2 linked regions of the Homo sapiens genome follow. The protein of the gene in region 1 purifies or fractionates together with the protein of each later gene. This does not show direct contact. Each region holds a gene or a part of one and is shown in the gene's direction. Other genes may lie near its edges.

Region 1 (3,817 bases):
TCTCATGTGATTCTAATGCACAGCCAAGACGGAGGAGAAGTGCTCTGAATTGGGAGAAGCAATAGCAAGCAGGGCTGAGAGCAGCAGGGGAGCCAGGTCGGGTGGCGGTGGAGAGCCTTGCCTCGGGAGGCTGGGGCGTGGAGTTCCCGTCCCACCCATCACTCCTGCATGACCTTCGGCAACTCTGTTACCCCACCAGTGAAGTGGACAGTAAGGGGCCGTAACTTTCTACTAATAACCTTGCTCTTCAAAGTGCAGTCCCAGATGCCAGCTTCAGCAGCACCTTGGAGCTTGTTGGAAGTGGAGAATCTCAGTGCCCACCTGGAATCTGAATTTGTATTTTAACAAGATCCCCAGGTGATTCATGTATTCATTAAAATGTATAAAGCCCTGGTCTGTATGATTGATTTGACTCAGTGTCCTCCAGTCTGTGTCCCTCCATGCCGCACTGGCTGCCTCACTGAGGACTCTGAAGAGTCCGGCACTGAGCGAACCAGAGTTATTTGGTTCAGCCCAACATTTGCCACATGTATAGTCTCAGATGCCCTGTTGTTTATGGAGCAGCTAGTGCCATTTCTCAAAACACAGTTTGGGAAACACAGCCCTAATTGATCCTTTAAGGAAGTGGCAATTAGCCTAATTGTCTGTTGTCAGCTTTAACTTTTAGGTCTATTAACTTAATTACATTGATTGTATATGTGGGAAAAGTACAGGACAGGAAAAAAACCTCCAACGCTGGCTGTCTTTGTTTAAAAAAAATCTTGACCCACGGGAGAGGCAGGGTGAACTCAGGGTTCTCCATACAGCCAAGAGCCAGGGGACATGTGGGGTCCTTTACAGATACCTCTTCTCCCTCTGAGTGGGCATGATCCTTCCTGTTTTATGTCCAGGGAAACCGACCCTCAGAAATGCTGGGAAACAGCTGGTGCCTCTGACAGCGTAATCCTCATGCCCTTGACAATTAGCCTTCCTCCTGGCACCTGCCAGGCAGCACAGCTACACAGGAAGGCAGATCCGCTTGAAATGGACAAACCATTCTGTTTCTCCAAAAGGTGGAAACCCTATTCGAGATGAGAGGCCTGGCTGTAATTACAGTTAGTAAAGTCAGAGGACCCGGATGTCCCTGATGTACTGGGGACTGGCGTTGTGATAGCCCCTCCATGCATTAGCTTTCCTTTCTCAGATTCTGGTCTGGGTCTTGAATATCTTTGGAGGAGGAGAAGTAATGCTCATCTTATTAGCAATACCTCACGGCCCTTCAGCTTGTAATGTCTTGAGCACTGGGCTAGGCATGTCATTGGACTTATAAAATCACACTGGCCTTACAGACAGATACAATGATTCATGATTTATTTTCTTTGTTTTATTTTTAAAGTTAGCATATGATAAAATTAATGTGTGTTTGTGCACTCTTCTATGAAAGTTAAGGCTTGTTTATCATGTAATCACCACCATCCAGATACAGGACAGCTCCATCTCTATCACCCCTCACATCTCATGCTGTCACTTTATAGTCATACTATTAATTTGGTTATTTTTTGTGTGGTAAGAATACCTAACATCAGAGCACCCTCTTTTTTGAGACGGAGATTCCTTCTTGTTGCTCAGGCTGGAGTGCAATGGCGCAATCTCGGCTCACTGCAACCTCCACTTCCCAGGTTCAAGCAATTCTGCCTCAGCCTCCCAAGTAGCTGGGATTACAGGCATGCACCATCAAGCCCAGCTAATTTTGTATTTTTAGTGGAGATGGGGTTTCACCATATTTGCCTATTTTAGATACTTCATGTAAGTGGAATCATGCAGTCTTCATTCTGTGTCTGCCTTATTTCACATAACGTAATGTCCACCAGTTTCATCAATGGTGTCACAAATGACAGAATTTCCTTTTTTAAGGCTGAGTAATATTTCAAGGTGTATATATACCAATATTTACCCATTAATAGACATTTAGGTTGTTTCCACATCTTGGCAGTTATGAATAATGCTGCAGTGAGCATGGGAGTGCAGATGTCTCTGAGATCCTGATTTCAATTCTTTTGGATAAATACCCCAAAGTGGGACCGCTGGATCCTATGGTAGCTCTATTTTTAATTTGTTGAGAAATCTTCCTCCTGTTTTCCATAGTGGCTGCACTATCTTTCCTCCCCACCAACGGTGTACAAGCATTCCCTCTCCCCACATCTTGCCAACATGTCTTTTGTTTTTCTGGTAATAGCCATCCTAACAGGTATGAGGTGCCATTTCATTGTGATTTTTATTTGCATTTCCCTGATGAATAGAGATTTTGAGCATCTTTTCAAGATCTTGGCCATTTGTATGTCTTGTTTGGAGAAATATCCATTCACATTTTTTGTGCTTTTTAAAATTGGAGGGTTTTTGGCCAGGCATGGTGACTCACACCTGTAATCCCAGCACTTTGGGAGGCCAAGGTGGGTGGATCACCTGAGGTCAGGAGTTCGAGACCAACCTGGCCAACATGGAGAAACCCCATCTCTACTAAAAATACAAAAATTAGCTGGGCATGGTGGTATGCGCCTGTAGTCCCAGCTAGTTGGGAGGCTGAGGCAGGAGAATTGCTTGAACCTCCGGGAGGCGGAGGTTGCAGTGAGCCGAGATTGTGCCACTGCACTCCAGCCTGGGTGACAGAGTGAAACTCCGTCTCAAAAATTAAATAAAATAAAATAGAAGTTTATTTTTGCCACTGAGTTTAAGGAGTTGCTTATATATTCTGGATATTAGCCCCTTATCAGGTGTATGGTTTGCAAATGTTTTCTTCCATTCTGTAGTTGCGTTTTCACTCCGTTAATGTTTTCTTTATTCAGTTTTAAAATGGTAAGCCAAGGCACAGAGCTGGAATGGGAGTGGCCCAGGACACAGCTGGTGAGGTGCAGAGCTGGGGTCCCAGAGCCTGGCACCTCACATGGTGCTATCCTGCTTTGCTGATTTTTCTTGCTGATTTTTATTATTCTTCACTAGATCTTCTCTCCCCTCCCACTTTCACACCAACATATAGAATTACCTAAAGTATCCTTTAAGAACTTTGGGAAACCCTGGTGATATTTGGCGTGTTTTGATGTCTTGCTGGGTCCAAGAGTATGTTCATGGTGTGCAGAAAGAGTCTCCAAGTCTTCAGGGGAAAGTGGTATGTAGCGGTCCAACCCTGGCCACCCTTTCTGAATGGTCTTCGCCCTTGCAAACCCCTCTGGGGACTGACCACAGGTCCCCTGCGGAACGCTGTGAAGTGCCCTTGGAACTGACCCTCACATTGCACTCATTCGGCAGAACTCTCTGGATTGAAATCCCTTCCTCAGTGTTTACCAGCTGTGGGGCCCAGGACAAGACACTTTGCCTCTGCAAGCCTCAGTTTTCCTCATCTGCAAATTGGGGTGCTCATACTTTCTTTGCGGGGATTTTGTGAGGGTGAGATGAGCTCATGTGGAATGTGAGACAAGTATACTTGGAGGCGGGAGGACATTTCCCTCTCCTCTGCCTTTCCTGGCGGCATAGTCCTGTGCACCTCACCGAGCCGTGATAGATGGCAGTAGTGGGTCTTCTGGTAGGTGGACGTGGTAAAACCAGGGCCTCCGGGGTTTGCAGGGCACAGATACAATCACATGGGAACACCTGAGATGGTCAGACCCAGAGTTAGACCCCTCTCCCTTTGTGGTACCCACACAGCCATAGACGTCAAACACCAGTCTGTGGTAAGGGAGAAAGTGGCCAGAGGGTCACACACTCAGGCGCCCCTACCTATCAGCAAGTACCTCAGTCGGTGATTGGGCAAGATGTGGGCCATGGCCACCTGGAGCGCGAGGCC
Region 2 (3,817 bases), on another chromosome or scaffold:
ATATAGGGTATTGCACCAGGCAGTGGAGTTGGATACAAGCAGAGCAGGTATTGGTCCCTGACTTGAAGGATTCTAGCAAAAGAAACAGACAAACTGGTGCTTATAAGGGTTATAAGGAAAGTACAAGGTCCTATGGGACTGCATAACCAAAGCACTTACGAACTTAAAGAGACAAAAATTTCTGAGAGGAGGTCAATTAAGATGTGAACCTGAGTCCAGTATGGTGGCACCCAGTGGCAGTGTGAACTGTGAGGAGTTCGCCGAGTTCCAGGAATTACTCAAGGTGATGTGGACAGTTGATACAGACTAGTACATTAATTAAACACTACAGTTCCAACAGCTTCCTTTGCAGGGAAGATTGATGCCAGCCAAACCTGTAAACAACTTTGAGTCTTTGATGGCAGCTCATGCCAGTAGGGACAGAGTCATAAAAAACTATATAGCCCAGACCTCAGCAGTAGTAAAAAACCTCTGAGAAGAGAGAGAAAAGAATTTGGACGATTTAATATTGTTAAAGCAACTCAGAACAGAGCAGGCAAAGTTGAAATGGATGTAGTCAGAATGATAAATGACAGGAGCTGGAAGGAGTTTAATGAATGCTGCCGAATTCACTTCAAACCTCCAAATAAACAGAATAAACGGAGATACTTTTTTTTTTTTTAAAGGACCGGGTCATCTCATAAGAGCTAAGCATGACAAATGTCAACAGGGCGGGCTTCCTAGGATGATTTCTGAGCCAGTAGTCCAAGACCTTTTGTTGATTTCAGCCCCACTTAGGCAAGACCTCAAATATAAATAATTCTGATAATTATGGAGAAATCAACTGCTATTTTATACTGATTCTGTTAAAAAAAAAGTTTTGTAACTATTAAAATAATGTTCTGACTCAGTGTAAAAAAAGAAAAACCAAACCTGAAAAAAAAAATGGGAGGAGTTAGCTAGGAAAGAGTATCTGAAGGGGATGGAAAGGGAGGGAAACTCTCACAAGTAGAGGAATCAGCTTGTGCAAAGGCTTAGAGGTATAGAGAGCATCTTAAAAATATTTAATGTGGTCAGAATGTGGGGTTGGGAAGGGAAATGAAAGGATTTGTGATAAACTTCCCCTTTGAGAAGGTCATGTTTTTTTTTTCTTTTTCTTTTTCTTTTTCTTTTATTTTTTAAAATTTGAGACAGAGTCTCTCTGTGGCCCAGGCTGGAGTGCAGTTGCACAATTTCAGCGCACTGCAACCTCTGCCTCCCGGGTTCAAGCGATCCTCCTGCCTCAGCTTCCCAAGTAGCTGGGATTTCAGGCATGCACACCACTATGCCCAGCTAATTTTTGTATTTTTAGTAGAGATGGGGGTTTCACCATGTTGACCAGGCTGGTTTCGAACTCCTGACCTCAAGTGATTGCCCACCTTGGTGCCCCAAAGTGCTGGGATTACAGGCATGAGCCACCGCACCTGCCCGAGAAGTTCATGATTAGATATGAAGGCAACTAGTAAACATACTGGCCTAAAATAAATACAGTGTTTAATCTCTCTATCCAGTCCATTTATGCAGTTTCTTCAAAGCCAGTCTCAAGTGTTTCTCTGTGAAACGTGCCAAACCTCCTTTAGCTAAAATACATCACTCTCTCTAAATTCAGACCTTGTCTGTGTTAGGCTTTTGACAACTAATTACACTGTGATTGAAACCACCATTGCAAAATTATAACTGAGACAGTGAAAGAGATCTGACCTAGCCAAAAAAAGATGGAGCCAGGCATGATGGTTCACGTCTATAATCCTAGCACTTTGGGAGGCTGAGGCGGGCAAATCACTTGGGGCCAGGAGTTTGAGACCAGGCTGGCCAACATGGCAAAACCCCATCTATACTAAAAATACAAAAAAAAAAAACCAGGCATGGTGGTGCACACCTGTTATCCCAGCTGTTAGGCTAAGGCACAAATCACTCAAACCTCGGAGGCAGAGGTTGCGGTGAGCAAAGATCGAGATCGTGCTCCAGCCTGCGTGGCAACTAGACCCTGTCTCATAAAACAAAAATAGAAAAATAAAGCAAAGATGGTAACAGCCCTTTCCTAAAACAAACCCCCTTCTTGCCTGGGGACTAGACTGCCTTTGTAGGTTTAATGAATTAGCCACAGATTAGAAATTATGGTTTAGGAGTCGTGCAGCTGGAAGTTATAAGATTCTTTTTTTTTTTTTTTTTTTTTTAATTTATTTTTTTATTGATAATTCTTGGGTGTTTCTCACAGAGGGGGATTTGGCAGGGTCATGGGACAATAGTGGAGGGAAGGTCAGCAGATAAACAAGTGAACAAAGGTCTCTGGTTTTCCTAGGCAGAGGACCCTGCGGCCTTCCGCAGTGTTTGTGTCCCTGATTACTTGAGATTAGGGATTGGTGATGACTCTTAACGAGCATGCTGCCTTCAAGCATCTGTTTAACAAAGCACATCTTGCACCGCCCTTAATCCATTTAACCCTGAGTGGACACAGCACATGTTTCAGAGAGCACAGGGTTGGGGGTAAGGTCACAGATCAACAGGATCCCAAGGCAGAGGAATTTTTCTTAGTGCAGAACAAAATGAAAAGTCTCCCATGTCTACTTCTTTCTACACAGACACGGCAACCATCCGATTTCTCAATCTTTTCCCCACCTTTCCCGCCTTTCTATTCCACAAAGCCGCCATTGTCATCCTGGCCCGTTCTCAATGAGCTGTTGGGCACACCTCCCAGACGGGGTGGTGGCCGGGCAGAGGGGCTCCTCACTTCCCAGTAGGGGCGGCCGGGCAGAGGCGCCCCTCACCTCCCGGGCGGGGCGGCTGGCCGGGCGGGGGGCTGACCCCCCCCACCTCCCTCCCGGACGGGGCGGCTGGCCGGTCGGGGGGCTGACCCCCCACCTCCCTCCCGGACGGGGCGGCTGGCCAGCCAGAGGGGCTCCTCACTTCCCAGTAGGGGCGGCCGGGCAGAGGCGCCCCTCACCTCCCAGACGGGGCGGCTGGCCGGGCAGGGGGGCTGACCCCCCCCACCTCCCTCCCGGACGGGGCGGCTGGCCGGGCGGGGGGCTGACCCCCCCACCTCCCTCGCGGACGGGGCGGCTGGCCGGGCAGAGGGGCTCCTCACTTCCCAGTAGGGGTGGCCGGGCAGAGGCGCCCCTCACCTCCCGGACGGGGCGGCTGGCCGGGCAGGGGAGCTGACCCCCCCCACCTCCCTCCCGGACGGGGCGGCTGGCCGGGCGGGGGGCCGACACCCCCACCTCCCTCCCGGACGGGGCGGCTGGCCGGGCGGGGGGCCGACCCCCCCACCTCCCTCCCGGACGGGGCGGCTGGCCGGGCAGAGGGGCTCCTCACTTCCCAGTAGGGGCGGCCGGGCAGAGGCGCCCCTCACCTCCCAGACGGGGCGGCTGGCCGGGCGGAGGGCTGACCCCCCCACCTCCCTCCCGGACGGGGCGGCTGGCCGGGCAGAGGGGCTCCTCACTTCCCAGTAGGGGCGGCCGGGCAGAGGCGCCCCTCACCTCCCGGACCGGGCGGCTGGCCGGGCGGGGGGCTGACCCCCCCACCTCCCTCCCGGATGGCACGGCTGGCCGGGCGGGGGGCTGACCCCCCACCTCCCTCCCGGATGGGGCGGCTGGCCGGGCGGGGGGCTGACCCCCCCTCACCTCCCTCCCGGACGGGGTGGCTGCCGGGCGGAGATGCTCCTCACTTCCCAGATGGGGTGGCTGCTGGGCGGAGAGGCTCCTCACTTCTCAGACGGGGCAGCTGCCGGGCGGAGGGGCTCCTCACTTCTCAGACGGGGTGGTTGCCAGGCAGAGGGTCTCCTCACTTCTCAGACGGGGCG

Evidence for each region.
Region 2: the proteins of ERGIC1 (region 1) and HIGD1A fractionate together in Homo sapiens (co-fractionation; one large-scale study listed by BioGRID). This does not show direct contact.

Annotation. Positions count from the first base shown.
Region 1 is NC_000005.10:172,840,484-172,844,300, forward strand, and holds part of ERGIC1 (endoplasmic reticulum-Golgi intermediate compartment protein 1), read left to right. Parts: exon of another isoform or gene 1-387; intron 388-3,817. UniProt on the Homo sapiens protein: Possible role in transport between endoplasmic reticulum and Golgi.
Region 2 is NC_000003.12:42,797,676-42,801,492, reverse strand, and holds part of HIGD1A (HIG1 domain family member 1A, mitochondrial), read left to right. Parts: intron 1-3,817. UniProt on the Homo sapiens protein: Proposed subunit of cytochrome c oxidase (COX, complex IV), which is the terminal component of the mitochondrial respiratory chain that catalyzes the reduction of oxygen to water. May play a role in the assembly of respiratory supercomplexes.